3 separate regions of the Homo sapiens genome follow, and all the other regions are linked to region 1. The links come from fine-mapping of genetic effects on gene expression. A gene starts in region 1. Each other region holds a variant in brackets. All regions are shown on one strand. Distances are between the middles of the regions.

Region 1 (10,704 bases):
GCCCTGGCGGGTGCTGGCCGGGACCCTGTTCCTATCTAATTTATCATTTGAAACATGACATTAACTTGCTGTCCGTAGGACCCCAACCCTCTCCCAATGCTAACAAATAGGGTGCACACACTGAACTATCCAGCCTTTAAAGTAATGAGAGCAATAATAATCATCATAATACTAAGGCCATACCACCTTACCAGTGAGAAGCTGAACCAATAATTCAGAATGTATCGAAGACCCACGTATGAATAATTCTTACTGTTGGAAATTGCTTTTGCATCCTTCTTCTTCCTTCTCCTCCTCCCCCTCCTCCTCCTCCTCCTCCTCCTCCTCCTTCTTCTTCTTCTTTTTAGACAGGGTCTCACTCTGTCTCCTAGGCGGAGTACAGTGGCATGATCATAGCTCACTGTAGCCTCGAACTCCTGGGCTCAAGAAATCCTCCTGCCTCAGCCTCCCAAGTAGCTGGGACTACAGGCACATGCCATCATGTCCAGCTAGTTTTTAGAATTTTTTGTAGAGATGGGATCTTGCTGCGTTGCCCAGGCTATCCTTGAACTCCTGGCCTCAAGCAATCCTTCCACCTCAGCCTCCCAAAGTGCAGAATGAAGCTTCCCCCTTCGGCCTTGCACCCAAGGCTTGCAGTGGCCTACCCCAAACTACTCTGGGGTGTCATCTCCTTTCCCAACCATCCTACCAGGCCTCGGCCCTATGGGCCCACTTGCACACCCACCAAAGGGCTCCCACCTCTGAGCCTCAGTTCATGCTGTGCCTCCCCCTTGCTAGCATTGGGATTCTCTCCCCATCCTTCAAGGCTTCTCTCAGGAGCTATAGCCCAGTGCTAAATAGAGGGACAAGTGACAAACCTTGGGAAAAACAGGAAGGTGGACCCAGATTGAGAAACCCCCAAGATTCAAGGCTGGCGGGTGCACAGCACCTTACTGATCAGGTTGCTAGCGGCTAGCTGTGCAGCGCCCATCTGAAAATAGCGAGGCAGGCCAGGCATGGTGGCGCACGCCTGTAATCCCAGCACTTTGGGAGGCCGAGGCGGGCAGATCATGAGGTAGGAGATCAAGACCATCCTGACTAACACAGTGAAACCCCGTCTCTACTAAAAGTACAAAAAACAAAATTAGCCAGGCGTGGTGGTGGGCGCCTGTAGTCCCAGCTACTCTGGAGGCTGAGGCAGGAGAATGGCGTGAACCCAGGAGGTGGAGCTTGCAGTGAGCCAAGATCACACCACTGCACTCCAGCCTGGGTGACAGAGTGAGACTCTGTCTCAAAACAAAACAAAACAAAACAGCCAGGCAAACCTACACTGGAGCCCTTTCACAGCTGGGACCAGCCAGGTGGCTCCAGGGAATTTCCTTCCATGTGCCTCAGCTTTCCCTTCTATCAAATGGGAAGGAGACCTCCCCAGGACACTTGTAAAAATCATGTAAAAAGATGGGTGCAGCCCAGGGATGGTATCTCATGTCTGTAATTTCAGCACTTTGGGAGGCTGAGGTGGGAGGAGTGCTTGAGGCCAGGAGTTCAAGAACAGCCTGGGAAACACAGTAAGATCCTGTCTCTACAAAAAATTCTAAAAATCAGCTGGGCATGATGGTATGTGCCTATAGTCCCAGCTACTTGGGAGGCTGAGGCAGGAGGATTCCTTGAGCCCAGGATCACAGTGGGCTGTGATCAAGCCATTGTATTCCACCTGGGAGATACAGTGAGACCCTGTCTCAAAAAAAAAAAAAAAAAAAAAGGATGCAAAAGCAATTTCCAACAGTAAGAATTATTCATATGTGAGTCTTCCATACATGTGTGCGGATCAAAGGATCACTCTCATTATGTGGCAGTTTGGGGCATTTCAGGGCATAGGAGGAAAGGGCAGAATTTAAGCCTGAAAACTGCTTCCCCAGGCTCCTCAGAGGCATGTATAAGGGCCCTTCACACACTGTGAACAACATAATAAATACTTCCCGAGGCCTCATTCCATGAAATCTAGGTGCTTGGGTACCCAAGGAGTCAGGAGGGGTGATTTTATCATGAATATTGAAGCAGAACAGCCCTGCTCTGACTCACAGTCTGTTTTCCTTCAACCGGGATCCCCAGAGGCATTGTTAAAAAACGCTCCCGCTGTGTCTTGTGAATAAAAGATGGCTTTAGGGCAGCACAGAATGAGCTGCTGCCTGGGCTAGGAAACATCCCCTGTCCAAACCTTCATGCTTTATCTGGACACAAGGGCAGAGGCCACACTAGCACTTCAGGACAGAGAGTGACAGGCAAACAGTGCCCGGTTCTGTGGTGGATGACACAAAGGCTGGTGCGGAAGAAGGGCTGAACCCCGGGGAGGCCTGACGCCTGTCAGTAATGAGATCATGAAAACCAGTTCTGAGTTGCTTCCATGTGGCCCCACGAATATCTTTATTCCCTGGGTCTGTGCCTGGGGTGGGCCTCAGATCCCATAGATCAGAGTGAAGGGGCTGTCACATTTACTTGTCATTTGGTAATTTTCAGTGAATTAGGGGTATGGAGTTTCCATCTGCCATCTGGCCTCACTCTGGTAACCATGGTAACCACCATCTGCCTGACTTAATACTATTAAGTCCTGTGCCAAAAGAGCACTGGACAGGGTGTTGGGACCAGGGAGCTGGTCATCCTTTACTGGTCACCCTGGACAAGGGCTCTGACCTTGCTGTGTCTCAGTCTCTTTCTCTGTATAACAGCAGATTTGGTCTGAATGTCTTTAAGGTGCCTTTCTCTTAGGAAGAGAATGCCACTCTGGGGAGAAATTATCTGAGATCATCAGCAGCATTTATAGTCTGAGGACCTGGTCAGCATTTCTTCTGTCTCCTGCATGTGGAGTTAAAAGTGTTACCTGTCTGGAGACAAAGAGAATTGCCTGTGAATTAACGGCTGAGGAAAGCAGTTATAAAAACGAGTGATAGGAACTAGCAAAAGGAAAGAGACAGGACTGTTTAAGTGCCACAGGGCGGAAACCAACTGTTCCGAGTGAAAGGGACCTCAACAATGACTCCACTGGGGCTGATATGGCCAGAGAGGGGAAGGGACCCGTCCAGGGCCACTCAGGGAGCCAGCGGCAGCACAGATGCACCCCCAGCCAGCTCTGTCCTCCATGGGGAGCTTCAGCTAGGAACAGCCAATGGTGACTTTCCTGTGCTCAACTGGCCACACACTGGTTTTACATTTCCCAGGACTGGAGGCTTCCTGCCCCATCTCCAACAACCCATTGCGTCTCCTGGACTTGGGTACATCTACCTGAACTACTTGAGAGGAAAGACTACTAGATACTTCTTAAGGCTTGGAAAGGTCTCACCCCACCCCAGGCTTCTTTCTTGAAGCTAAGTCATTACACTGACTTAGGCACTAAAGTCTGGACTTGGTCTCTGGGCTCAGGCCAGAATTATTTCCCAGAAGCCTGAACTCCAGGCCGAAACCCAGGCTCCTTGGGACTCACTGGCCACCTTCTCACTCACCCTAAACTCAGCACTGCCCACTCCAGGCAAAGTACACAGCGGCACTTCAAAACCTAGTGGGTGGAATACACTCATGCTTAGGAAGCCGGTAAAGCAGTGCTAACGTTTTGGTTTCTTTTTGTTTGGTTTTCAAAAGGTACATAAAGAGGGTGGGCAACTATAGCACTCAGAGATTATTTTACTGTGATGTTAATGAAGCTTAAGTTTCTAAGTCCCTAGCATTTCATAATAAGTTTCTAAGTCCCTAGCAGTTCTATTCCTTTACTTAAGGCAGGACTCTCCAAATTATATATGTTTTAGAAGCACGAAACCTGAGTCTGCCCCTAATAGCACCACAATCTTTTCAGACCTTACGTCTCCAAAGGTCTTACTTCTCCTGGATGGAGCTCCCTCAGCATCCCAGCTCAGCCCCTTCCCACACCGGGGGCCCTGGTGCTCTGGTGCTGTGGCCTGGTGACTACTGATTCCCCAGTCTGGAACTCATCCTCCTCCTGCATCCTCAACTTCCCTTCCTCCCCTATCCTCTACTTCCCTTCCTCCCCCAACCTCAACTTCCCTTCCTCCCCATTCAAACAATCCACCTAGCGCTGGATACCTGGGAACTCGGATCCCCCTCCTTAACTCCCAGTCTCCTGCTGGGCAAACATACCATGCCTACAAATAAGTGACTGCATCAGCAGGTACTTAAGTACCAAAAGGGGTAGCAGGCTCACCAAAAATTCGACTAGCACAGTGAGTGGCGTCTCCAAGGATTCTCGCCCCAGTCTCTCTGAGCACGAGGAGAGATATGAAATACTGCTCCCTAAGGGGAAACTGAGTGCCAGGCAGCGCCGTCCACCACTGGGCAGGGGGATCCTTCGCTCCACACCCCAGAGGGTTGGAATCCCTCCTTCTCTACCCACCCAATCCCCGACCCTGACTCACCGAACTCGCAAGGGCCGTCGCGCGCCTTGTGCAGGTGACCGGGGTGCGCGCGGGGCGTGTGCCGAGCGCGCAGGCGCAGCGCGCAGACGCTGGGGTACGAGCGACCGTCGGAGCCGCAGACGGTGCCGCGCTGCGCGCACACGCAGAGCCCGGTGCCCTCGGGCGCTGCCCCAGCGGCCTGGCTCGCGCATACCAGGCCGGGGCCACAGCGCCCGCCGGCGCGGCCCCCGCAGCTCGCGCCCTCGGCTCCCAGGCAGCGGGCGCAGCAGCCGCACTCGTCGAGCGCCGAGATCCCGGGCGCCGGGCAGGGCGCAGGCGCCGGGCAGCCCTCTGGCCGGCACGGACCACACTTGGGGCGCCGGCCGCCCACGTCGCGGATCCCAAGGCTCGGGGACAGCGGCGGCAGCAGCGGCAGCAGCAGCAGAAGCAGCAGCGGCAAGAGCAGAGACAAGCGCGGCATGGCTTGCTCCGGGACAGCGGCGGCGCCTCTGCTTCGCGCTCCGCTCCGCGCCCGCCGAGCAGTCACCGCTCCCGCCCCGCGGCCGCTGATTGGCCGGGCCTGCACCGCGGGGCGCCCGCAGACCGCTGCTCCAGCCCGGGACCCGCGCGGTGCCCGCGGCCCGGGTCTCCGAGCTGGAGGGTCGCCCCGAGAGCAGCTCTCCGACCTCCGATTGGACTCTTGAGGGAACCGAGACCCAGTCGGGGCGACAACTTGCCCGAGGTCGCTATGGCAGAGTCAGGATTGGATAACCGTACGGTCTCCGGATCCAAGGCTGGCTCCAGATAGTATGCCCGTAAATCCTCCCAGAAGGATGCGCTATTTTATTTAATTTTATTTTGCATTCAGTAGTTTTCAAAGTTTTATTTTATAAAGAGAATATATGGTTTAAAATGTAGATTTTACATATACATCTAAGGATGAAAAGAGGGTTACCCTACCACCTTGTATCCCCATCCTCCAACTCGGCTTCCAGAGGCCACTCTTGCTATCGGGTTTTTGTATATCTTTTCAGAAATTTTCTCTATGCCTATAAAAGTACATGTGCCTAAAAAAGCCCCTTCCTTTAAAACACACACACTCTGTTTCTCTCTCACACACACAGAGTAGCGTGCCATACACATTAGTCTGCACTTGGTTTTTGCACTTACAGTGTTTCACAGTTTCCCCACCTCTTGTCATCTGTGAAACTGGGTTTCTTATACAATCAATGGGAGCATAGTTCATTGGCTCTGTGAGTGTGTTTCTTAATGCTGCATAAAGTCATGGTACATCTCCGTCCACAGTGACTTTGTTGTGATGAGATATGGTGATATATTTTGGAGTTCATACAGAGTGGCCTTTCCACAGGGTTTAGTTGCAGTTATTTAACCACTTATTTTCCATCCTTTGGTTAATACGAATAATGCTTTGATGAAGTCTTGGTGCACAAGGGTCAGTGTACCTGTGGCTTACTGGGGAATGCATGTTGGAAAGATGCAGTTTCTTGTAGTCAGTTATTCATGCCGCCGTTGCGCCTTCTCTGGGCCAGGCTCTGTGCACACCATCCTGCCTGAGTTCTGGCAGGGCACCCAGACGAGAAACCTAAGAGAGTCTTGGCTGCTGGGATTTGATGTGTTGCTGGGTAAATGCACTGGATGGAGGGAGGGACTCGCTGAGCAGGTTTTATAGGAGACTTTTCCTGCCTTTACTGGCCACCCCTCATGTGTCTTGTGCTCTATTGTTTTTTCTTTGCTGAACTCCTGGAGATGGAGAAAGCCTCTTGCAGCCTGGGAAGACCAGCTACACCGTTCTTGGGTGGGGTTCATTTTGCTTTTCAAGCCCAGTTCCTTCCCAGTTTGCAGTCTTCTTATCCCCAGAAAGGAGCCTCTTCTGAGGCCACTTTATGTGGTGGTCAGAGGAGGGCCATCTGCCTGGTCCACGCCAGGCCTTACCTTACAATCAGCCACACAGAGCAGGGGCGGTTAGGCACCATGAAGGGGTGGTGGTAAGGAATAAATATAACAATGTTGGTAATGCACTCAGCGCAGCTCTCAGAACCTATCAACAGTGACTTTCAACCTGGAGGCTGCTGTCTTTACCAGGAGTGGCCTTTTAAAGTGCTCTCACCGCTTGACCCCTCTGTGCTCTTCCAGGAATCTCTCCTAAAAAAATGATCACTATGTGTGAAGATTTCATCCTGGAGTTGGTTACTATAGCAAAAAATAAATAAATAAATAAAATAAAAATAAAAAAAGTTAACGACCTAAATGCCCACCGAGAGGCAATCGTTAAATAAATTATGGTACATCTAACAATAGAGGATTATGCAGGCATTAACAATTAGAAAGAAAATATGGGTTAATAGAAATGAAAACATGTTTATAATACATTGTTTAGTAAAATAGCGGTTAAAAAGTGCACATCTAATGTAATGGCATATTTGTAAATATGTGAATGTGTAAACATGCAAAAATTTAAGATTGTTTTTAATGATGTGAAGGAAACCCTTTTTTTAAAAAAAAAAAAAAAAAGAGATGGTACCTCATTCTGCTGCCCAGGTTGGAGTGCAATGTCATGATCATAGCTCACTGCAGCCTCAAACTCCTGAGCCTCAAGCCGTCCTCCCCCACTCAGCCTCCTGAGTATCTAGGACTATAGGTGAGCACCACCACGCCTGGCTAATTTAAACAATTTTTTTTTTTCAGAGATGGGGTCTCACTATGAGAAGGAAACACTTATAATGTTAAATGAACAAAGCAGGATTTGCAAACAAAAGAGATAAGCGAACTCCATGCTGCTTTTCAGGGACAACTTTGCTGGTAAGTTCAGACTTTCTAATGGTTCATAGTTGTCCAAAGAGAGATCAGGCTGCTCCAGAGATAGTGAGGTCCTTGTCAAAGAAGGAGTTTAAGAATGAGTCTTGGCAAGGAGCATGGAGGGGGTCAGAAGTAGGGGTCAGGGGAGTTGACGTTTGATTACCTCAAACTGAGCCACCATTCCTGTAGTACAGTGCCCGACCCTGAGACCTGGACTGGACAAAACATGGTCATGATTGAGAAATAAATGTGTACAGAAATGATTTGCCTGCTTTTTATGCAGACATTAAAGGAGGAGTAAGTGAACGGTGTCATAATGAAATTAATGTGTGCTTAATGCAGGTTAGGATACACAATCTCACAGAGGCGCATTTACATATGATCTACATTCCTTTTAAATGGTAGGGAGAGTACTATGTATGCATAACGACTCTTTGAGAATTAAATCAGAAGACTCATTTTCCAACACTGAGCCTGTGGCATCAAAGCCCCTGTATCTGGGTGGAGAAAACATTCCCAAGCTTTGAAGGTGATCAGTCATGTCTATTTCCTTTTAAAATTGCCTGCAAGCCCATAGCCCAGCAGAGGCATTTGTGCTCTTTCATCTCTCTGGTTCCCAGAGTACCAGTTAACACTGTGGGCCACACCTGTGGGCCCCCTAAGATGATAGGAGAAAGTAGGGACAAATTCTCCCAGTCGGGAAGGGGGGTTGAGGTGCCTCTGTTGTCTGGCAGGTGGAGAGATCCCATGCACCTGGGTAAGTAATTAGGCAACAAGAATGGGTGTGATTTTCTTCCTCTTCAGCCTCCAGCCTGAAAACAAACACAACACAGGGAAGACTAGCCAATCCCCCATTCAGAGCAGATGTGTGCCCACCCGGCAGCTGCTGAAGTGGGTATGAATGTCCCATCCATTAATTCCTCCCTTGAACGTAGAGATAAATGGCAGATATTCTCTGTCCTTGGGGAGCTTCCAGCACAGAGGAAGAGAATAGAAGCTCAGTTGAGCAAAGGCCACTCCATAAATAGGCCATGGATTTGAACCTCAAGCTTTAATAGTCAGGGCAATCATAGATAGTCTTCTCCAAGCTAAAGGAAGGTGAAAGCCCTTTCTCCAGACCTCTGGTGGGCGATTACAGAGCAGAAGGCAAGGTGAATTTCTAGAGGGAAGTTCCATAAATGACAGATGGGATTTTTAGGGAGACAGATTTCACTTCAATATTGCATGCAAGGGGATGTAGCAAGATGTAGAACTCTGCAAAGATGGGAATTCAGATACTGAGCAGACGAAAAAGAATGGTAGAGGATTTGCTGTTCTGCTGTAAACCACTATATAACTTGGACAAATTAAAGAAAACAGCTATGGACAGGCACTGGACAGTGTTCTAATACAGGGCTGTGATCCTTGAGAGCGTCAGGGGGTACACAATGTGAGCCCCACATCTACCCAAGCATTCTCCCTGGGGACACTTTCCAGGCCACTCTGCAGGGAGGTGGAGGCCAAGTGGTCTCACTGGACAGAAGAGGTAGACATCAGAATTCAGGAGTAAGGCAGAGATTTGGGGATCTAGGACAGAAAATGAGGAACCACAGAGAGGGAATCCCACAAGTCTTAGACCTTTGGCTGACCCTGTACTGCACAAGTACAGGGCAAGACTTGAGGGAGGCTGCTGGGAGGTGAGAGCTGAGCAGAGATTTGGGGCTCACACAGTGCTGATAAGATTTTAGAGTTCAGGCCCACCCAGAATGAACTGCCCCAGCCCCCCTGGGGTTCTTTCTCCAAGCTCAGTGACACTAGCATCAGCCTAGTGGCACACCCTGCAGAGGTCTCAGTTTGAGCTCCAAGGACCCCTCTTATACGCATCTAAGTTTTAGTCATTCCAGCCATTTCCATTGTTCTCCTAGCCCTCATGGTGGTAGCTGCTTCACAGTTGCTACCTCCAAGTTGCCTAGTTAATAATTCCTCTTCTTCTTCTTTTTTTTGAGACAGGGTCTGGCTCTGTCGCCCAGGCTGGAATGCAGTAGCACGATATTGGTTTACTGCAACTTCTGCCTCTTGTGCTCAAACCATCCTCCTGCCTCAGCCTCCTGAGTAGCTGGGACTACAGGCATTTGCCACTATGCCTGGCTAAATTTTTGTATTTTTTTTGTAGAGACAGGGTTTTGCCATGTTGTCGATCCCAGTCTTGAACTCCTGAACTCAAGTGATCCGCCCACCTCAGCCTCCCAAAGTGCTCAGATTACAGGCATGAGCCACTGTGCCCAGCCAATAATTCTTTTTTTTTTTTTAATTATTATTTTTTGAGACGGAGTCTCACTCTGTCACCCAGGATGGAGTGCAGTGGCATTATCTTGGCTCACTGCGACCTCCACCTCCTGAGTTCAAGCGATTCTCCTGCCTCAGCCTCTCGAGTAGCTGGGACTACAGGTGCATGCTGTCACGCCCAGCTAATTTTTGTATTTTTAGTAGAGACAGGGTTTCGCCATGTTGGTCAGGCTGGTCTCGAACTCCTGACCTCAGGTGATCCACGTGCCTCGGCCTCCCAAAGTGCTGGGATTAGAGGCGTGAGCCACCATGCCTGGCCCAATAATTCTTTATATTACATTCCATTTGTAGGCTTGGCACAGTGGCTCATGCCTGTAATCCCTGTACCTCCCAAGGTTTGTGGGGAGGATTGTGTCAGGACTTCAACAGCCTGGGCAACATAGTGAGACCTCTTTTCTACTAGCAAAAACATGTAAAGTTTGCTGGGCATGGTGGTACATGCCTCCAGCTACCCAGGAGGCTGAGGTAGGGGGATCACTTGAGCCTTGAAGTTCAAGACTGCAGTGAGCTGTGATCAAGCCACTGCACTCCAGCCTGGGGAACAGAGCTGTTGCATGCCTGAAAAAGAAAAAAAGAGAAATGAATTCTATTTGTCATCTGACTAGGTAGGCCTGAGTGATCTAGCTAATAGAACCAGGAGTGGTCCCAGGAAACAACTGTCAAAGATGGGTCACAATCAGAGAACTAGAAAGCTTAACTATAAATATGCTTCAATAATCATACAAATTATTTATTTAAATGATAAATAAGAATACATTTCTTGCAGCTACAGGGTCAGTATTGCTGAAAATGACACAAAAAATGTAATTGTGTGTGTTGCATAATTATAAGTTGAATTCACAGGCTTTCCAGTCTCTTATGTGAAAGTTAGGGAATGAGAACCTGAGACTTGGAATGGAGAAATCTGGGTGGACTCAGATGAAGCTGAGAATCCTGAACCCTTGAGTCATTCTGAGCTTCCTTTGCCAATGGAAGCAGCTTGCCTGTCATGTCTGAGAAGACTCTCTTTCCCTTGCTTAAGGACCCTGTGTTAAGATCACCCAAGGCAGTTGCCTTGCAAGAGATACCTTTTCTCCTCAAAACCTAGGGCTTGTGGCCACTAGACTTTCAACTGACATCAGAACTCTATGTACTTGAGTAGGGCACATACAAGGTTTACCCTGGGAAGATTTAGCTTCTACAC
Region 2 (10,704 bases), 430 kb after region 1:
GATGCTTTAATTGTACAATGTTCCCCGAAATGTTTACACTTTAATTCTTGCCAAATTTGTTGTAGCCAACTTTAACCGTGGAATGACATATTTAGTCCCTCAACACTGTCACTTGAATGACACATGGCAATGGGTCAGCCAATTCTTGGAGCAGCACCTGGAGACCAGGGCATTTCCTGTTGCAAACAGTTTCCTACTGACCTTTGTGGGAAAGAAGAAAGAAAACCCAAGCCGGGCACGGTGGCTCACACCTGTAATCCCAGCACTTTGGGAGGCTGAGGTGGGCGGATCACCTGAGGTCAGGAGTTTGAGACCAGCCTGACCAACATGGTGAAACCCCGTCTCTATTAAAATACAAAAATTAACCGGGCGTAGTGGCAGGCGCTTGTAATCTCAGCTACTTGGGAGGCTGAGGCGGAAGAATCGCTTGAAACCAGGAGGCAGAGGTTGTGGTGAGCCGAGATCGCGCCATTGCACTCCAGCCTGGGCGACAAGAGCAAGACTCCATGTCAAAAAAAAAAAAAAAAAGAAAAGAAAAGAAAACCGAGGCTTGGATTTTTAAATCTTCAATTGTGAGTGAAATTTGCATCATTACTCTGTTATAGTTCCACTTACGATTTTTAGAATAAATAAAAACAACATAAAGTGTTTTGAGAAACATAAAAATATTACAGACATATACACAGATGCAGTGATGCAAATGTAAAGATGATAAAGTCCAATCGTCAGAAAAGTCGTAAGTGGAATTAAGGCAGGACACAAGCAAGATTCACTGGTCCCTGAACAGCAGGGAGCGATAGAGGTGTCTGAATACCTTTGGGAGTCCACATCCCCGGGGTGTGGGGGACAGGCAGGCCCTTCATCCCCCGGGCAGAGCTGAGCTTGTTCTTGTCACATTTAACCTCAGTCCTCTGATAAAGCCAGAACATACAATGTTTTTATCTGCCCATTCAGAATCATGTAAGTGCAGGTTTTTTTAAGTAATTATGAGGGTGAGTGAGACTTTCACTGTAATGTTTGGTAAGTAATGAGGTGATTCAGTTTTATGTCCATCTTGATTTGAGGAAGAGAGAATGGTGAGGGAAGCATTGGGACAGGTTCATCTGGAACCACAGACACTTAAATGTAGACAAGCCTTTAATGATGCCTGGTCCTCGCTTCCTCCCAAATGCAGGTATGTATTACATCTCTGTTGGCTGTTCCCCTAGAATCAGCTGTAGCTTTTCCAGTGGCCAGGAGCCCTGGTCCCCGTTACCGTTGCGAGGCTGTCTTGCATTATTGGGCACTTTGAATGCTTAAAACTGGGCTTCTGGAAAAAGAGTCAGATTCACCTGGATCTGGATCTGGCAGGTGAATGTCACAGTCTCTAACGACCTCCTAATTCCTGTCTTCTCTCTTTCCTTCCTTTTTTTTTTTTTTGAGACGGAGTCTCCCTCTGTCGCCCAGGCTGGAGTGCAGTGGCACGATCTTGGCTCACTGCAAGCTCTGCCTCCCGGGTTCATGCCATTCTCCTGCCTTAGCCTCCCGAGTAGCTGGGACTACAGGTGCCCGCCACCACGCTCGGCTAATTTTTTCATATTTTTAGTAGAGATGGGGTTTCACCATGTTAGCCAGGATGGTCTCCATCTCCTGACTTCGTGATCCACCCACCTCGGCCTCCCAAAGCGCTGGGATTACAGGCGTGAGCCACCACGCCCGGCCTGTCTTTCCTTCTTTTAATCTTTCTACACATGAAAAGGCGTCAGTAGCCCCCACCATCCTGTATGTCACCTGGGACACCCTCAGTCTGCCTTTGTTAATGTCAGAGCCAGGAACTCAGGGAAAAAACTATTTTCTGAGATACGTTTTTGTGCAGAGAGAAGAGACTTTCCATGTATATTGCCTTTCCTGTAATATTGTCTGTTCAGGTAGCTGTGTGCCATATCCAGGTAGCTGCATGCCCTCTTCCCTGTTTTAGCACTGGTTGATACTGAGTTTATGGTTAATTAGTAAATGTGTTAAAAAATTTTTTGAATTTTTTTTCAAAAATCAGCAAGCACAAATATGTACCTAGCATTTTCCAAGGATATGGGTATGGAAAGATAAAATGCCAGAACTTACAATTTAATTAGATATTAGTGCAAATGATCGATACACTGCAATGTGGTAACTGTGTAACAGATATTAATTGCACCATCCAAAATTCAGTATGTTAAAAATGGAACTCTTCAGGTTATCATAGGAATGTTGCTTGACTCTTATGCCCAGGGCAGACTGTGAAGCATCCATTCCCCTAAATCCAGGGCAGTCAGGTAAGGGGCCTTCTTATCTCAGCCACTTCTCCACTTCCAGCCCAGACTCTTGCTGTATTAACCTCTGTTTCTCCGACACAGCAGACCCGGAGACTTTTTAACCTCCTTTTTTTGTGACTCCTCCCCACTCTACCACAAGTAGGGTTGCAAGATTTAGAAAATGAATATTTAAGACACTCAGTTAAATTTGGATTTTAGATAAATGACAAATACTGTTAATTAGTATAAGTATGTCCCAAATATTGCATTGCATTTTATTGTATTTTTTTTTGTAGCAGCCGTACCCTCAAGAAGTGCACCTTCCAACCACCCTTATATGAGCCTGCTCCAAAACCTTGCCAGCCAGCACTTCCAGGTTACGACTATTGACCTCCAGCTCCCAGTTTCAGGTGAGAGGTGAGACCCAGTCCCACACTAGCATGTCATCTTCGTGGAATCCCAAAAGAGACAATATATAGAGGACAGGATTTTTTTTTTTTTTTTTTTTTTTTTTTGAGACGGAGTCTTGCTCTATCGCCCAGGCTGTACTGCAGTGGCGCGATTCTTGGCTCACTGCAAGCTCCACCTCCTGGGTTCACGCCATTCTCCTGCCTCAGTCTCCTGAGTAGCTGGGACTACAGGCGCCCGCCACCACACCCCGCTGATTTTTTGTATTTTTGGTAGAGACGGGGTTTCACCGTGTTAGCCAGGATGGTCTCTATCTCCTGACCTTGTGATCCGCCCGCCTCGGCCTCCCAAAGTGCTAGGATTACAGGTGTGAACACCGAGCCCGACCAAGGTACGGCCTTTTTAAAGCCCCCTCCCCTGCTTCACACCCAGCAATGCGCCTGCTTTAAGGGTGTCCTTGTTTTTGACAAACTCACAATCTCCGCCTCCACAGGTTTCGGGCGCCCCTGGTGGTTGCACTTTGCCAGTAGCTTATGGCAACCCACCAGGTTTGCTGATGCTGGACTGGCATTTACCTGTCAAAGTAATTTAAACCATAAGATTTATTTCCAAATAGGGGGGGAAACAGATAAAATGGGAGAAGGGCATGGTTGTGGGTTTGGACTAATCAGAACAAGATTCTAAATTTTTATAAAGAGAGGAGATGGTACTGCAGGAAAGCCCTGTGAGTCTCCCCTGCAAAATACCCACCTAGACCTGTTTTTGTTGGTGGTTGTGTGTATGCCTTCTGAAACAGTGTGTCTCCACAGCCAAACATGTGCTGGGATGCAGGAGATGCTTAGGCCACCTTGATCAGTGATGTCTGAGGCTTCCCCAGGCTGGTTAATTCACAGCCTCCCTCCTTTATGCTCCCCCAGATTCTCTTTCATTTAGATTGTGTTGACTCAGCTCAGGGGATGAATATATGTATTTGCCAACATTATTGAGTTTGCTAATTAAAAAGCACTGAAAAAAAACTTACTTTCCCTCTGCGTTTGGTGACTTTTACCCCTAGAACTCTTCTTCTTAGGAAGCCTATGACAATGAAGATACTATAAAAACAAGGGTCTTTCCAATTCCCTTCTGCTGTGTCGTGGAGCGAACACTCAACCTGGAGTCTAACGTTCTTAATTTCTGTCCCAGATCTTTACTGGCTGGGTCTCTGCACACTTCTCAGTCTCCTAGAGTCTTCAGGTTACTCAATCAAAAAATGTTCTAAACTAGTTGTTATAAGAGTGCTGAACACATTGGCTGGTTCACTCACACAATAGATTTGCCTGACAACTGTTCACTAAACTGTATATCTTAGTGCAGTATGTGGATTTAACTGGTGGTGTTGCTGATGTGTCAAAATTTTGAGCACGTTCCAGCTTTTCATTGTTGTTATTTTCCATCTTCCATTACTTTGAAGGGAACATGTTACAGGACACAAAGAAATACTAAACTTGCAAAGCATATGAATAATAGCAAATGTGATTATTATTTATTTACTTATAAAAAGATGATAGATTACTTCATGTTCTGCTTAAAGCTACTTTTTGCATTTGGACCATTTTGAGTAGCCCATATTCTGCCAAAAATTATAATTATAAAATTAGTGAATCACGCAGAAAACATTGGAACTAAATTATTGACACGGCTTTGGAAAGGTGATATCCAATCTTATATGCAAATTCCAGTTGTCTTCCATTACTCTTGGGATCTTTCAGCAGATTTTTGCCATCTGTGTAGAAGCTGTTATTGAATTTTCTTGCTGAGATTATATAATTTCTATTCAGAGAATTAAATTCCCCATTACACTGTATTTTGTTTCTCTACAATATAAATGGAAAATTATGTAACAGGGAATTTATACATTTGTTTTGCACCTGTGGTATTTAAAATGTGGCAGGCATTTAGAGCTGTCATAAAGACCCAGGCCGAAAATGCTTTATTGCATATGATTATCCTTCTCTTACTACTTTTGAAAAGGAATGAAATACAGCCATTTTAATATTCATGTGTTCCATCCAAACAGAGGACTGAATAATAAAAGTGGATAACTTATATTTGCTTCCATTACAAATAGTTTTATCTTGCCATCTTCAGTCATTGTTTTCGGCTTGCATTGTGATACTATGAAGTGGATCAGAAAATATACTTCCTGAGTGCTACTTGTTAAACAAGTGTATGAAATGTGCTTGACCCTGCTCTGTGCAGTAGAGCATTTCAGACTAATCACAAACTACTGAGTGGAGTCAAAGCAGCAGCTCAGACTGCTTTCTCTGCAAAAACTGGAGATAAAGTGTTGGTTAGAATATAACGTTTAGCTTCTCATGTTGTAACTAATGGTAGGCCTGGTGGAGTGGTTAAAATATAATGAATCCAGTACCAATGGATTCCAGAAGTATTTGATACCCATCTAATATAACGCTGCTCAAAACATTTTGATGGGTCTCTAGGGTCTAATGAATAAACTTCCAACCTTAGTCTGGTCCTTGTTATCCGACTTATGCTGTTTCTTTCTTTCTTTTTTTTTTTTTTCAGAGAGTTCTCCCAGTCTCCTGGATCACACTGGTCTGAAAGCTGTTTGGTAGACAACCTTCGAGTCTTTCTGCCTTCATACTGTGGGTATACCGTTCTCCCAACTGAAAACCCGTTTATTTTCTTATCTGTCTACTCAAAGCCTAACCAACACCAAATGGCCTAGAAATGCCACGTACCTACCAGTTGCCTCTTTCCTCCTCCAGCCCTTGTGAATGTGAATTCACATCTCTGTTCTCTGTGTTCCTTGGCCACTTAGTACCATTCACAATATCTCTCATAGCTAGCTCTCTGCCTTAGGGCTGGCCCATGGGACTAAAATTCCTTGTGGTAGGTATTTTTTTTTCATATTTCTATTCTTATAGCATCTAGCATAGAACAAACAGCCTAGTATCTAGTGGGTATCCAATAACAACTTATGCAGGTGATTAGGCAAGAAAAAGAAATAAAGCCTATTCAAATTGGAAAGGTGGAAGTCAAATTGTCCCTATTTGCTGGCAACATAATCTTATATATAGAAGAACTTAAACACTCTGCCAAAAATCCATTAGATGTGATAAACAATTCAGTAAGGTTGTATTGTATGTATCAAAACATCCCTATGTAACCCATAGAGATGTATAATTATTTTATGTTGATCAAAAATAAAATAATAAAAGCTCTTAATAAAACAGTCATCTCTTTCAGAATTCATGGTTACCATTGCCTCTAGTATTATTTGTCAATTAAAAAATAAAATTTAAAAAGAATTTAAAGAGTTGAATGCAGTTTAAAAATGCATGCAGGCCGGGTGCGGTGGCTCACGCCTGTAATCCCAGCACTTTGGGAGGCTGAGGTGGGCGGATCGCGAGGTCAGGAGATCGCGACCATCCTGGCTAACATGGTGAAACCCCATCTCAACTAAAAATACAAAAAAATTAGCCAGGCATGGTCACAGGC[G/A]CCTGTAGTCCCAGCTACTCGGGAGGCTGAGGCAGGAGAATGGCATGAACCTGGGGGGCAGAGCTTGCAGTGAGAGGAGATCGCGCCACTGCACTCCAGCCTGGGCGACAGAGCGAGACTCCGTCTCAAAAAAAAAAAAGCATGCAAGTAAGGAAGGATCGTGTGAGGGTAAGGGTGCAAGTGCAGCTTTAAAGATATTAGTAAGAGAAAAGAAGAGGGCGTATAGTGCATGCTGTGACATGGGATGACAGCTTGCACTGAGAGAGCATGGATCTATATTTTTACTATATTATACTCTGTAATTGAACATTTCAGCTTATTTGGATTGTATTAAGCCACTTTATTATTTGAATGCTCACAATTTCCTTCTAATTTCAAACTTGTTTGTGGACCTGTAAAAAAATTCTTTTTTTAAATGCATCTGTTTAATGACACAGGACACTTTTCATTTATGCATGGTACACTGGTAGCCCAATCTGAAAGTACTATTTTCTACACTAAACTTTTTTTTTTTTTGAGCCAGAATCTTGCTCTGTTGCCAAGCTGGAGTGCAGTGGCGCAATCTCGGCTCACTGCAACCTCCACCTCCTTGGGTTCAAGAGATTCTTCTGCCACAGCCTCCCGAGTAGCTGGGACTACACACCTGCGCCACCACACCCAGCTAATTTTTGTAATTTTAGTAGAGACAGGGTTTCACCATGTTGGCCAGGATGGTCTCAATCTCTTGACCTCGTGACCTGCCCGCCTCAGCCTCCCAAAGTGCTAGGATTACAGGCGTGAGCCACTGCGCCTGGCCTAAACTATTTTTAAAAAGAAGTAACAGCATGCCTCTACTTATGTAAAAGCAAACATATGTTTTGACGGTGGTGAAGTTGGCTTCTGTTAACCCAACTTCTAAAGAACTAAATTGGCCAAAAGAGGAAAAAAAATGCTTATTTTATTAAATTTAAATTTAGTAAATGCTTATTTACTACATTGACTTGAGGATTTCAGACAAATAGCTTAGTTAGTGGTTAGATCAAGAGGCTTTATAGAAGAAAAGCTTAATGGTGCTTATTTATAAAATGAAAAAATTAGTAGTTCTTGGCCCTGCCTCATCTGTTTCTCAAATTTGTTGGTTATGAAAGATCTGACTGAAATCCACACCATCTGGCTTTTAGTGCTGGGATCCCAGCACAGGCCAGTTTAGCCATCTGCTTCTGTCTCTGACGCCACATACAACAGAGAGTCTTTTGTCATTGTTGTTGTTGTTGTTGTTGTTGTTGTTGTTTTGAGATGAAGTCTTGCTCTGTCTCCCAGGCTGGAGTGCAGTGGCACGATCTCGGCTCACTGCAAGCTCTGCCTCCTGAGTTCACGCCATTCTCCTGCCTCAGCCTCCTGAGTAGCTGGGACTGCAGGCGCCCGCCACCACGCCCGGCTAATTTTTTGTATTTTTAGTAGACACGGGGTTTCACCGTGTTAGCCAGGATGGTCTCGATCTCCTGACCTCGTGATCTACCCGCCTCGGCCTCCCAAAGTGCTCGGATCGCACCCAGCCCAGAGCTGCATTTTCATACACCATTGAAATCAGTGAACCCTCACCGTGTGATGAGAATGCTGGATGAAATTTTATGCTGAGTGAGGGAACAATCTGTTGAAAATAAAGGTTAGAAATGTGTAGTGTCCTATCGTGTCAGTGCCACAAAAAAGATGGGGAGTCCTGCCACATGGTGGAATGGTGCCACATAAGTCAGAGCAGGAAGCGAGTGCAGAAGGACCCAAGTGACTGGAGAGATGATTGCAAATGCAACAGAAATTCTAGGGTTCATCGGATGCTGTGGCTATGCTTAAGAAACCAGCCACTCAGCTAAGAAAACAACAGTGAGAAATAACACCGTTACAGTGGATTTATTTCTCTGCTTAAATGACTGCCTTGCAGAAGAGCTGTGATCTTTTGATATTTTTTGGCAAACAGCATCAAAAACAAGATATATGGAATCAACCAACAGATCATGTATCACTGTGCTTGTACTGGTAAAACTCCGTGTACTTACTCCACGTCTACCGTAGTAGATTGAGAGATGGTCATCCAAAGATCTCAGATTCTAATCCCTGGGACTGGGAAGTGTTCCCTTGTTTGGCAAAAGAGTCTTTGTAGACGTGATTAAGTTAGGGATCTTGGCATGAGGGGACGAACCTTCTTTATTCAGGTGGCCTTGAATTATGATCACAAGTGTCCTTATAAAAGAGAGGCAAAGGGAGAAAGCACAGAAAGGAGAGGAGGAACTTAAGTGCCCATGGAGGCAGAGACCGCAGTAATGCAGCCACAAGTTAGGGACGCCAACAGAAGATGGGAGGGGCAAAGAACCAGTCCACCCCCGTAGACTCCAGGAAAAGTGTGGTCTTGCCAACACATTGATTTTGGAATTCTGGCCTCTAGAACTATGAAAGTATAAATTTCTGTTATTTTAAGCAGCCCAGCTGTGATACTTTGTTAAGCAGCCACAGGGACTAATACCCCTACTATGTGCCACTCACTGTGCCAGTCCTGGGGAAGATTTAGGCTGGAAAAGCATGGCCTTTGCAGCATTTTTCCCCCACCAGTGCTGAGACAATATGTTGAAAAGACTGGGAAAATGTTATAATGTATTCAAAATACCAGATGAGAGCTTTCTGTGTACCTGTCACTATGCTCAGCTCCAGAGATGGGATATGAACAAAATAGGCCCAATTCTCTTCCCTCTGTGCCGAACTTACTTTCTGTTAAGTACAAAATAGGGCTTAATGCTATGAAAATGAAGAGGAGTGACAACATTGATGTCAACCAGGAGGATCAGGGCAGATTTTAAATATGATGTGGCTGCAGCAAGAGTGTGTGCGCATGGGAACAGGCATTCCAAACGAAGGAATCACTGCTAATACAGCTGCAAAGTCTGCAGTGCCTTTGGGAAGCCTTGACAAGATGAACGTGTCAGAGAGCAGGCATTCAGTCTTTAACACAGCCTTTCCACATCGGCCTATAAAATTGTATTATGATGTTTCTTCATTTGGAAAACTAGTTTTAAAGGTTGCATTTTGATGAGTTTGCAACATTCAATTTCATGGAATCCAAATCGCATGCCCTTTGGAAGAGGTGCCATATGTGAATGCACCCATAAAGTGCACGCATGCAGCGTTTGTTACGTGGTAGGATCTCATGCAATTTTAAATGACTCTCATGTTAAAAAATGCTTCTATTGGCAGGGGGTGGTGGCTTACACCTGTAATCCAAGCACTTTGGGAGGCCAAGGCAGGTGGATCACCTGAGGTCAGGAGTTTGAGACCAGCCTGGCCAACATGGTGAAACCCCGTCTCTACCAAAAATACAAAAATTAGCTGGGCATGGTGGTGGGCACCTGTAATCCCAGCTATTTGGGAGGCTGAGGCAAGAGAATGTCTTGAACCCAGTAGTTGGAGGTTGCAGTGAGCCAACTTCGTGCCATTGTACTCCAGCCTGAGCAACAAGAGCAAAACTCCATCTCAAAGAAAAAAAAATGCTTCTATCACTCTTAGCCTTGTTTTACTTCATACTCTGGTGGTGGGCAGGTTTGCTACCTTAAATACGTCCTAGAAGCTGAATCCAAATACTTTTTGAACAATTTTCTGACTTCCTTTAGAGAAATGTACTGTCAGAGTACTATGTATAATTTTTTAAATACAGCTACCCTGAAGACTTATAAAAGTCTGGTTGTTCAGGCAGTAATTTATTTACAAATTCATGAAAATGAAAACAGTTTATGCAAGCAACCAGCTCTGGGATGCCTCATCGTCCTTTGCAAAATTATCCAAATCATGATGAAATAGGCTTTATTTTTATGGATTAAACAGAGAAGAATGTCTAATGAATTGTCTAGAAATTGAAATACGCACCTTTTATGAATAGGGACATTTCATAAGACCATTCTGTATTGTGAGTTAGGAATTCAGATCAGTTGAAGCATTAAAAAAATCAAACCTTCTGCAGCTCATTAAAGCATAAACCTAATTTTTAGAATTTATCCGACTAATATAGTAAGACCTCCACCTGCTTAGAATAATATTAATACTTGGCCTCATTTACCTCCAAGAGGGGGATAGGCCCCTGACCAATCTTCCCATTTCACCGAGGACAGACACTTCCCTTGAATCAGGTGGAGGTTTTCCAGTCATATTTGCAACACTGTTTAATGCTCAATTGCCCTATTTCTTTCCTCTGTGAAGTGAATACAATAACTTAAATGAAGGTTGTTTGAAACTCCTACTATTGGGTAGGAGTTTGCAACCTGGTTACTATGATCAGAGCTATAATTTTTTTGTTTATTATAATTAGGTTTTTTGCAAGACTAAAATTGTGCTTCTTTTAAAGTGCTGAAGAATTTCCAGGCTTGTCAGCACTAATACGTATTCTAATTGCAAAAACAGACACGAATATCAACCCAGGTGCATAGACCTCATAGTGTCAATCAAATCTCATCAGAAACTACTTGTCTTGCAGGAGGAAGGGGATCCTAAAATCTTTTTTTTTTAA
Region 3 (10,704 bases), 43 kb before region 1:
TCTCTCTCTCTCTCTCTCTCTACCACCCCTTCTCCTACCTTGTGAGGACACAGCAAGAAGGGGAGAAGGCAGTCATCTGGAAACGAGGAAGACAGCCCTCACCAGAAACTGACACTGTTGGACCTCGATCTTGGACTTGCAGCCTCTAGAATTGCAAGAAAATAAATTTAAGCTGTGGACTCTGTTATTTAAGCTCTCTAGTGTGTGGTATGTTGTTATGGCAGCCTGAGCGGATAAGACTTCCTTTCAACAACAGAGGAGAGTGGGCCTGCAGCAGGGGTCGGGGTCGGGGTCAGGGTCAGGGTCAGGGTACCGGGGAAAATCCCCGGGGCCCCTCGTCAAGGAGGCAGACTCCAAGATCCACCCCTCTGGATTCCAAGTGGGCATGTCTGAGGATGAGCCTCAAGTCCTCATGATTTTGAGAGGCGATCTCTGACCACCCTCTGAGTACTGCTGGCCCAGAGGGTCCTCATGGTCCCTTCTGCACCTCACCCTCAATGTCAGTGAAGCCCAATGATAAGCCACATCACTTGTCCCAGCAAATTCTTCATTTTCAGACATCAGTTCATTCTAAGTCATCCTCTTTTGGCCTTGTTTAATATTAGAACATGGGAATGCAGAGATCAGTGGCTGAAAATAAGCTGAACATTTTTAAAAGAGAAAATGAATCTCTGCACACTTCCGGAAAGTGGAAAAAAGTGCTCTGAGTTACTGAAAAGTTGGCAAAGTGCCTCATTGGAGGGACTAAAAATTACCAATACTAGAAAAGAGACTGAAAGTATCTCTTGTAATAGCTACCTATTGCTGCCTAATAGATTGTCCCCAACTTAGCAACTTTAAACAACAATTTCTGAGCATCAGGATCCAGGAGTGGCTTAGCTGGCTGGTTCTGGCTCAGGGTCTCTCGTGGGATTTGGATCAAGCTGTCAGCCAGGGCTGCAGCCACCCGAAGCTTTGCCTGGCCTGGAGGACCCACTTCCAAGTGCACGCAAGGGGATGCTGGCAGCCTGGAGGGAGGCCTCCATTCCTGGCCAGGTGGGCCTCTCCAGACTCACATGGCAGCTTGCTTCCCGGAGTGAGAGATCAGAGAAAAAAGCCCAAGATGGGCCTCAATCTTTCATCATCTAATCTTGGATAGGACATACCACTGAGAGGTGACAGCCTGCTGGCAGCCCTCACAGCCCTCACTCGCTCTGGGCGCCTCCTCGGCCTTGGCGCCCACTCTGGCCGCCCTTGAGGAGCCCTTCAGCCCGCCGCTGCACCGTGGGAGCCCCCTTCTGGGCTGGCCAAGGCCAGAGCCGGCTCCCTCAGCTTGCAGGGAGGTGTGGAGGAAGAGGCGCGGGTGAGAACCGGGGCTGCGTGCTGCGCGCTTGCGGGCCAGCGGGAGTTCCGGGTGGGCGTGGGCTCGGCGGGCCCCGCACTCGGAGGCCCCGTGGCCCGCAAGCCCCGGGCAGTGAGGGGCTTAGCACCTGGGCCAGCAGCTGCGCTCGACTTCTCGCCTGGCCTTAGCTGCCTCCCCTCGGGGCAGGGCTGTGGACCTGCAGCCCACCATGCGTGAGCCTCCTCCACCCCTCCATGGGCTCCTGCGCAGCCGGAGCCTCCCTGACGAGCAACGCCCCCTGCTCCACAGCGCCCAGTCCCATCGACCACCCAAGGGCTGAGGAGTGCGGGCGCACGGCTGGGACTGGCAGGCAGCTCCACCTGCGGCACCAGTATGAGTGGGATCCACTGGGTGAAGCCAACTGGGCTCCTGAGTCTGGTGGGGACTTGGAGAACATTTATGTCTAGCTAAGGGATTGTAAATACACCAATCGGCACTCTGTATCTAGCTCAAGGTTTGTAAACACACCAATCAGCACCCTGTGTCTAGCTCAGGGTTTGTGAATGCACCAATTGACACTCTGTATCTAGCTACTCTGGTGGGGACTTGGAGAACCTTCGTGTGGACACTCTGTATCTAGCTAATCTAGTGGGGAGGTGGAGAACTTTTGTGTCTAGCTCAGAGATTGTAAAGGCACCAATCAGCACCCTGTCAAAACGGACCAAGCAGCTTTCTGTAAAATGGACCAATCGGCTCTCTGTAAAATGGACCAATCAGCAGGATGTGGGTGGGGCCAGATAAGAGAATAAAACCAGGCTGCCCGGGCCCACAGTGGCAACTGGCTCGGGTCTTCTTCCATGGTGTGGGTTCCTTGTTCTTTTGCTTTTTGCAATACGTCTTGCTGTTACTCACTCTGGGTCCACACTGCCTTTATGAGCTGTAACACTCACCGCAAAAGTCTGTAGCTTCACTCCTGAAGCCAGTGAGACCACGAACCCAGCAGGAGGAATGAACAACTCCAGAGGCGCTGCCTTAAAAGCTGTAACACTCACTGCGAAGGTCTGCAGCTTCACTCTTGATCCAGCGAGACCACGAACCCACCAAAAGGAAGAAACTCCGAACACATCCGAATGTCAGAAGGAACAAACTCCGGACACGCCACTTTTAAAAACTAACACTCACCGTGAGGGTCCACGGCTTCATTCTTGAAGTCAGTGAGCAAAGAACCCACCAATTCCGGGCACACCACCGCTACATCTACCATATGCTGTTGGTCACACAGACCATCCCTGATACAGTGTGGGAGGGAACCCCACAATGCAGGCAGCTGGGAATACCAGGAGGCAGGGTTCACTGGGAACCATTTGGAGGCTGGCTACAACATTCTTTAAAAAAAAATTTTACTTAGACCAAACTGATATCAACCAACGTGTTTTTGGCCCAATGGCCTTCAGTTAGATCACAGATGGTTATGTGGAACCTGAATGGAGACATTCAGGTCCAACAGTGTCAGTTTCTGGTGAGGGCTGTCTTCCTCGTTTTCAGATGACTGCCTTCTCCCTTTCTTGCTGTGTCCTCACAAAGTAGAAGAAGAGATGGGAGAGAGAGAAGGAAGGGGGGTGGGGAGAAAAGGGAGGGGGAAATTTGACACAGAAGAAGGAGGTGACAATGTAACACTAGCAAGACGAGAGGGGAAGGAGCTATGAAATAAGGAATCCAAGAAAAACAGCTTTAGAAATTGAGAAAGGCAAGGAAATGTCTTCTCTCCTGGAGCCTCAGAAAGGAGCAGGGCCCTGCTGATGCCTTGAATTTGGCCCAGTGAAACTGATTTCACACTTCTGACTTCTAGAACTGCAAGAGATTGGTTGTGTGTGGGGGGTGGGGGGGAGGGGTTGGTTTTTGGTTTTTGTTTTTGAGTCAAGAGTATCACTCTGTTGCCTAGGCTGGAGTGCAGTGGCTCGATCTTGGCTCACTGCAACCTCTGCCTCCCGGGTTCAGGCAATTCTCCTGACTCAGCCTCCTGAGTAGCTGGGACTACAGGCGTGCACCACCACGCCTGGCTAATTTTTGTATTTTTAGTAGAGATGAGGTTTCCCCATGTTGGCCTGGCTGGTCTCAAACTTCTGGCCCCAAGTGATCCACCTGCCTCCACCTCCCAAAGTGCTGGGATTGCAGGTGTGAGCCACTGCACCTTTCCTTGGACGTGTGTGTTTTGAACTGGAAATTTGTAGCAATTGTTACAGCAACAATAGCAAAGGAATACCCTGCATCATATCCATTTGGTACCATCAGGAGAGTTTAGAGCAGGAAAGAAAGCACACCTGTGGTCCCAGAGCTGCATGTACTAGAGGTTTCAGGCTCACAGAAGATGATGTTAAGGGGAGCAGATACTTTTTGCAGGGTAATGAGTTGCACTGATTTCCAGCATGCTCAGGTGAGGCCTAGTGGAGTCAGACCTCCCGGGGTAGAATCCACCACTCACTGGCCATGTAACCTTGAGCAAATTCTGCAACCCCATCGTCTCAACGCTGGCTACATATTAGAATCACCTGGAGCACCTCAAATTATACCCATGGCTAAGGCCTACCCTGAGAATTCAAGTTGGCCTCAGGAGAGGGGCTTAGGCACCAGTACTTTTTATTTTAATCTTGTTTTTAATGGACCTTCAAGAATCAGACCAGAATCAGTACTTATTAATATAAGGCCCCAGATGATTCTAATATGTAGCCAGCACCAAGCACCACCCCTATCTCTCTAAATCTGTTTCCTCCTCTAAAATAGAAATCAGTGTTAGGTTACCCCACGTGGGTGTGATGAGCCTCAAGTAAGGTAATCCCTGTAAAGTGAGTAGGACATAGTAAACCACCAATTCATTACTGTGACTCACGACTGACTCCCTGTGGATGTGCAGTGGTCCTTTTCCCTCTTGGGTCTCAGTATCCCCACCTGTACCTGGATCATCTTTCAGTGCCTCCTGCTATATCCCCTCTTATGAATAGAAAGATTCAGTAGATCACTTACTCAGTGACCTTTTCAGGTGCACTAAAACCAAGCATTTCACACCTTAGGGAGACACAAGGCAGGATCTAATCAGAACTCTGCATCCCTCGGGCTTGGTTTAGGGATTCTAGTGCCACATTCAAAGCACAGAACAGGCGCCTGGGCCAATGTCACCTTGGTAAGTGTCTGCCTCCCAGCGTGCCTTAAGGTTGCAGGAAATTGCCTATTTACACGTATTCTGCTCTGACAGGCACACCAGAATTTTAAAATCCTCCTTCAGGTTTCTCACAGATAAGATGGGGAACTTTGTTTACTATGGATTCCAGGGCTTCCTGAAGAGGAGGCCTTTGAGTTTTCGAAAATAATTGCTTTTCCTCTCCTGTGCTCTCCAGGGGTGGTCTTTGGCCGGAGGAAGAAATGGCTTTGTTGCTCAGGAGAGCTTTGGGAATGGAACTCAGGGGCTTCCAAAGAGCAGCAATCAGGAAAACAAGCAGGGAGGATCCAGGTTTTGCAAGGCCTGAAGCCTGCACACTAGGGAGCCCCATGCTCTGTGAAGGAGAGAACAGTGATAAGAAGAAGATAATGATTCAGCAGCTTTGCAAACATTGTTTGGTGAATAAACAGCCCCGTTCAGTGCACCGGTTTCTTCCTCCCATCATGGGACAGGTGGAATGTGATCTGAGATGCCAGCCTTGGTCAGCTGGAGGGTTGTTCAGCTGCCTC[G/A]TGACTCCTCCTCGGTAAGAGTGAAAGAGCCTTTCATTCCCTAAATAAACATGTCTATTAGAGGCATTGATCTGTCCCCAGCAGGCAGTAATTGCACCTCAAATGCCACAGATGCACAGCCTGGGGTTCTACTCCACCCCGCCCTGCCCTGCCCTGCCAGTCTCCCTGCCTGGCCTGGGACGGACCCTGACCCTCCTTGGGGTTCAGGCTCTTCTTCTGTACAGAGTCACAAGGCTGTTAATTCATATTCTTCCCATCACAGGGATGAACCCCTCTGGCTCAGTCATAAATGATAATATAAGACTCGTTTTCCATGGAAAAGCCCTAGTACAGCCATACGGGTACTTTAATACAAAATGCTCACCTACCAGTTTGTAAGCAGCCCCTCTCTGAGCCCCTAGGTGCCACCTCCACTCTGTCCTCACGGCCCTTGGCCTGGGACCCCCTGAACTTCCGCATGACTCACCATGGCCAACCAGATCACAAGGGTTAGGGTTAGGGTGAGCACAGAATTACAGCCAGGCTTTGTGCCCATGCTCCATTCCTCAGTATATCAAATCTCACCCCTGGGCCTGGGCTGGGGCCCCTGCACAGGCTCCAGCCCTTCTTAGCCTAGAGAGAGGCTTCTTGAGGAGATTCTCCCATCCTTTAACAGCAGAATCCAGCCTGCCTGGATTCACTGAACAGGAGTGCAGCTGGGAGTGGAGCCATTTCTGAGCCGGTGAGCCCTGATCTGTCTGCTTCTACCTTCATTTCTAACAGGTATTTCTGGCCCAAGAAGTTGGGCCTGGGAGGACAGACCCAGCCCAACCATCCTCCTGTGAAGGACCCTTCGTGACGGGGTGGAGGCCACACTCTCTGGCTCCTGCTCCTGATCACTTTCCTTCCCGTTCCTCATGAACATGTCCAGGCATCAGCCCAGGGGCAGATCTAGGAAAGCCTGGAGCCACCGGGCCCCTTGGAGCTTCCTCAGGGGCCACCAGAGGGTGGGGGCCCGGTAAGCAGCTCCCTTGCACCTGGCTTAGTCTGTAATCTAGTGCAATCCCTTCACCGTGAGGATAATTGGGCCCAGAGGGCTCATGGTGAGTCAGACAGCCTGGGGTCCAGTCCCCAGCTGGGGGCTTTGCCCACAGCACCTTGTGCCCTCTCTCCTTTGTGGGTCTATCCTCGTCCTCACACACGTTGTCTCTCTGTTCCAGGGAAGGAGTATTCCATGGCCCATAATCCGTGTGAACAGATAGACAACGGGAAGCATCTTTGTTATTCCAACACTGGGGCAATTTCTTTCACCAACCCGTAGCAGAGGCCTTAATGAGGCTTCAGTCTAGCTGAAAAGGTTGTCCAAACCCCACACGTAGCACCAGGTGAGCCATAACTAAGACTGGACTATATGTGGGCTCTCACTTTGGACCCTATCCAGACCTTCCCACTCACTCCCTGTGGGATCTACAGAAGTCTTTCCCTTCTCTGGACCTTAGTCTCCTCATCTATACAATGGTGATGTTGGACCAGAAATTCTAAGGACCCCCTTTCTCCTGATCTGTTCCTGATTCTATAAGGCCAGGGGTGGGAACAACCATCCTGGAATCCTCTCAGGAAAAAGCTGCTCAGGCAGGGTGCAGTGGCTCACGCACTTTGGGAGGCTGAGGCGGGCAGATCATTTGAGGTCAGGAGTTTGAAACCAGCCTGGCCAACATGGCGAAACCCCGTCTCTACTAAAAATACAAAAATTAGCTGGGCATGGTGGCATGCATGTGTAATCCCAGCTACTTGGGAGGCTGAGGCACGAGAACACTTGAACCCAGGAGGCGGAGGCCACAGTGAACCGAGATGGTGCCACTTCACTCCAGCCTGGGTGACAGAGCAACACTCTGTCTCAAAAATAAAAAAGAAAGGGCTGCTCTTCCTTGATGACTCACTGAGGTACACCTATGGTGGGACCTTTAGAATCAGATTTGGAGAGGGGAGACAGTGCAAAGTCAGTCACCTCCACTAGCTTGCCTAGTGCTTTTAAGAGTGTGGCATTCCAATCCATCACATTCCTGGAAAATAGTCAACCCTCTGCAAAAATAATTTGTGCATTTTACCTTCAGCTACTGCACGTTGGTTCTTCTCTCCAAACCATAAATGTCAAGCACTGTGGAAGGTTTTCTTTTTATTACTTTTTATTTTTGAGGGGGTAAATACCTTGCAACAGGACCACTTTGGTGAGTTCTGATGCCAGTCACAGCTTAGAAAGTGTCAAGGTAGTCATGCTGGATAGAATCTAGACACAACACATTTGCAGGCGAAGTCACTTTCTGGAAATAACCATGACGGAGTCAAAGACTCCTCAGAAACCACTTAGGCCAGTGCTTCCCAAATATGGTTATATATCAGAAGCATATGAGAAACTTGGCCAGGTGCAGTGGCTCATGCCTGTAATTCCAGCACTTTGGGAGGCTGAGCGGGGTGAATCACTTGAGGTCAGGAATTTGAGACCAGCCTGGTCAACATGGTGAAACCCCGTCTCTACTAAAAATACAAAAATTAGCCGGGCGTGGTGGCATGCGCCTGTAGTCCCAGCTACTCAGGAGGCTGAGGCAGGAGAATTGCTTGAATTGGGGAGGCAGGGGTTGCTCTTCCTTGACGACTCACTGAGGCACACCTATGGGGGGACCTTTAGAATCAGATTATCAGATTTGGAGAGGGGAGACAGTGCAAAGTCAGTCACCTCCACTAGCTTGCCTAGTGCTTTTATGAGTGTGGAATTCCAAGCCAAGCTTTGCAATTGCAGATGCACCACTTACCAGTGAGTAATTTTCTCTTTCTGAACCTCAGTGTCCTTATCTGTCAACCAGAGCCAGTAATCTTTTCCTCATAGCAGAGTTGGAGGGGTCTGTGACAGAACCTCCTAGTTAGCCCCCAGTGTCTCTCTTCCCACCAAGCCACAGAAATGAAAGCCCCAATATTCTGACCACCCTAAAGACTCTATTTCCCAGCATGCCTTGCAGATAGTTGTACCATGTAGGTAAGTTCTGGCCAATGGGATATAAATGGAGTTGTTTGGGGGTTAGCTTTGGGGAGCCTTCCTCTAAAGCCAGAGGCATGCACACTTTGCCCTTTTGTCTTCTTCATTCCCACCCGCCTTCTGATCCCTAGAATGTAGATGTGGTGGCTGCCATTTGGGATCATGAAGACAGTTTCCCCTGCTAGGGGTGACCAGTGGGAATTGGAAGGGGTCCACCTCCTTGAGCATCATTGAGCCACCTCCCTCACCTGCTTCCCTCTGGGCTTCCTTTACTTTTTTAGAGAAATCAACTCCCATCTTATGTAAGCCATTTTTATACGAGTCTCTGTTACTCAGAGCTGAACTTACTCCTCACTCACTGCCATAGGATCTGAGGAAATCAAGTGGTTCTCATCTAACCAAGTCACCCTTATGCCTTAAATCCCTCTGATACTGACAGGAGGCAGCCAAATGCCTAGGCAGATAGGAGTGGTCCCCAGTGAAATCCCACCTCCAAGCCAAAGACAGTTCAAAGCCTAAAAGCCAAGCTACAAGTTAGATCCTTGGACCAGACTGAGAACCTGTCTTCCCATTTGGCACACCTTCCTCTGACTGATCACACCCTTCACCTATTTTACACAAGCCTACCCTTTTCTAATTGGTTTTCTACACTCTCATGCCCTCCTTTGGGTGGTGTCTTCGCTTTAACCTTTTTTGCATGCTCACAAACCAATTAACACGCATTCCCCATTCTGAGTCCATAAAAAGCCCCAGACCCAGCCACACTGAGGAGAGAAACCACCCAGCTGCAGGGCTGGGGGACCAATTCCCACATCCCCTCTCTGCTGACAGCTGTTCTATTGTTCAATAAAATTCTTCTCTGCCCATCCTCACCCTTCTACTGTCAGCATGTCCTCATTCTTCTTGGATGTGAGACAAGAGCTCAAGAACTGCTGAACACAGGTACAAGCTATAACACAGGTGGGACAAGTGGGTAGGGTGTCTCTAACGGCAGGCCTGGGACCCAGAGAGGCCCAGGCAAGGGGGACATCGCTGACCAGAGGTCCCAGCTGGCAAAGTGACTGAGAAGCATCCTGTGTCACTTCTGTGCCTCCTCAGGATACATCCAAACTCCTTAGCAAGGCACTTCAGGCCTTTCATGATCTTGGCATGATCTATGGCTCCAGACTTGGCTCTCAATGGCCCCCACTTATCCCATCACAGCCCAGGCACCAGCCAGGAGGAGGTTCTTACTGCACCCAAAGCCACAGGGCTCCCTCTCATTTCTGACCTTTGGCACATGCAGCTCTGTCTTCCAGAAATGCTGTTTCTCCCCTTGATTCAGCTTTCAAGAATCAGGTCAAGCATCAGCTCCTCCAAGAAGCCTCCCCTGACCTTCCCAGGCTTTGTGTAGTTGTTTTGTCCCATTTCCTGTTTCTCTGCTCTCTTGGCACCACTCTCTGGGTTCTCTTTCTCACACTGTGTGAGGGAAACATGCCAGTCTCCATGTCTGTCTGCCTCCCCAGTCTGTGAGTTGCCAGAGGACAGGTATGATGTCTTATTTGTCTCCACACGGCAGGGCCTGGCATAGGTGGGTCAGCAGTAACAGGAGCTGAGTGAAAGAAGGAATGATGAGTGGCAGATGCTTGCTGATGTGGACACTGCTGGGCCTGACAAGGGACTGTGCTGGGGAAACTGTCTTTGAACCAGAAAGAACTAGCTAGAGACAGAGAGGCAAAGTGGAAAGCAAGGGTAATCAGCGCTCACTGCAGCTCCCATACTCTGGTCACCTAGGCATCAGCCCTGTGGATCCAAAAAGCCTTTGCGCCCTCCTTGGCAGATCTGCCCTGCTGTCATGGATGGTAGGGCAGCATTTCAGGCTCGCTCCATCAGCAAGTGTATGAAGATACACTGGGTCCCTGCCAATACTTTGTACTTCAACCATTGCCTTATAGTGGCCCATAACCAGCCATAACAGGATGGGAAAGTCAATTGACTGGGTTTAACAAATAGCATGCATTTAGGCTCCAACATTTGTGGCCCAAGGACTCTGCTGCCAATGAACAAATGAACACTATGTAACAGCTTTACTACAACTTTCTGGGGCTTCAGTCTCCTAGAGGCCCTTGTGTCCTTCTCCTCCTATACCCCTCTTTTTACAGTGGCGATGACTGAGGCCCAGAGGGAGGTAGGTGGTGGCTCAAGGTCACACAGAAAGGCTGGAACCAGCACCCAGGCTCTGATAGCCTGCCAGTGCCCTTTGCACCAACTCTACTAGGTTTGGTGAGGGCTATTCAATAATTAACCGTGGATTCTGAGAAAGACATGGACCCCTCGGGCCCAATCATGAGGTCATAAAAGAACAGATTCATTACACAGTGTTTGAGCCCAGAGGACACTTGCTATTGACTTGGTAACATAATCTTTTTTTTTTTTTTAACTTTTTATTACCAGAAATTTTAAATATACACAAAAATAGACATTATAATGAACCCCTTTGTGCCAGCAGCTGCCAGCGTAAGTAATTATGAACACCTGCTGTTCTTGGTAACATAACTTGGAATCTTATTTCCTCCTTGGAAACTGGAGGAGACACACACTATAAAACACTATAACCAGAATGATCATTTCAAATTGCAAACTGGATTGTGTCAACCGCCCTTCCTTCTCC

What was found. PIP is the estimated chance that this variant, and not a neighbour inherited with it, causes the effect.
Region 2: its variant is fine-mapped to the expression of IGFBPL1 in cerebellum (GTEx, PIP 0.98). The same link has a PIP of 0.9 or more in cerebellar hemisphere.
Region 3: its variant is fine-mapped to the expression of IGFBPL1 in thyroid (GTEx, PIP above 0.99).

What each region holds. Positions count from the first base shown.
Region 1 is chr9:38,419,565-38,430,268 of GRCh38, forward strand. It overlaps IGFBPL1 (insulin like growth factor binding protein like 1), which reads right to left and starts at 4,890. Exons shown (of 5, transcript NM_001007563.3): 1 at 4,401-4,890. The coding sequence starts at 4,860. LOC105376041 (a long non-coding RNA gene) reads left to right here and starts at 5,047. Exons shown (of 8, transcript XR_007061487.1): 1 at 5,047-5,186; 2 at 7,086-7,199. RefSeq lists an enhancer at 5,935-10,214.
Region 2 is chr9:38,845,996-38,856,699 of GRCh38, forward strand. It overlaps LOC105376043 (a long non-coding RNA gene), which reads left to right and starts at 2,554. Exons shown (of 4, transcript NR_188596.1): 1 at 2,554-2,680; 2 at 5,244-5,323. The variant G/A (reference allele first, on the strand shown) is at 6,180.
Region 3 is chr9:38,376,247-38,386,950 of GRCh38, forward strand. LOC107987065 (a long non-coding RNA gene) reads left to right here. Exons shown (of 3, transcript XR_001746670.2): 3 at 4,714-4,959. LOC105376040 (a long non-coding RNA gene) reads right to left here and starts at 123. Exons shown (of 4, transcript XR_929605.1): 1 at 39-123. RefSeq lists an enhancer at 4,557-5,505. The variant G/A (reference allele first, on the strand shown) is at 5,045.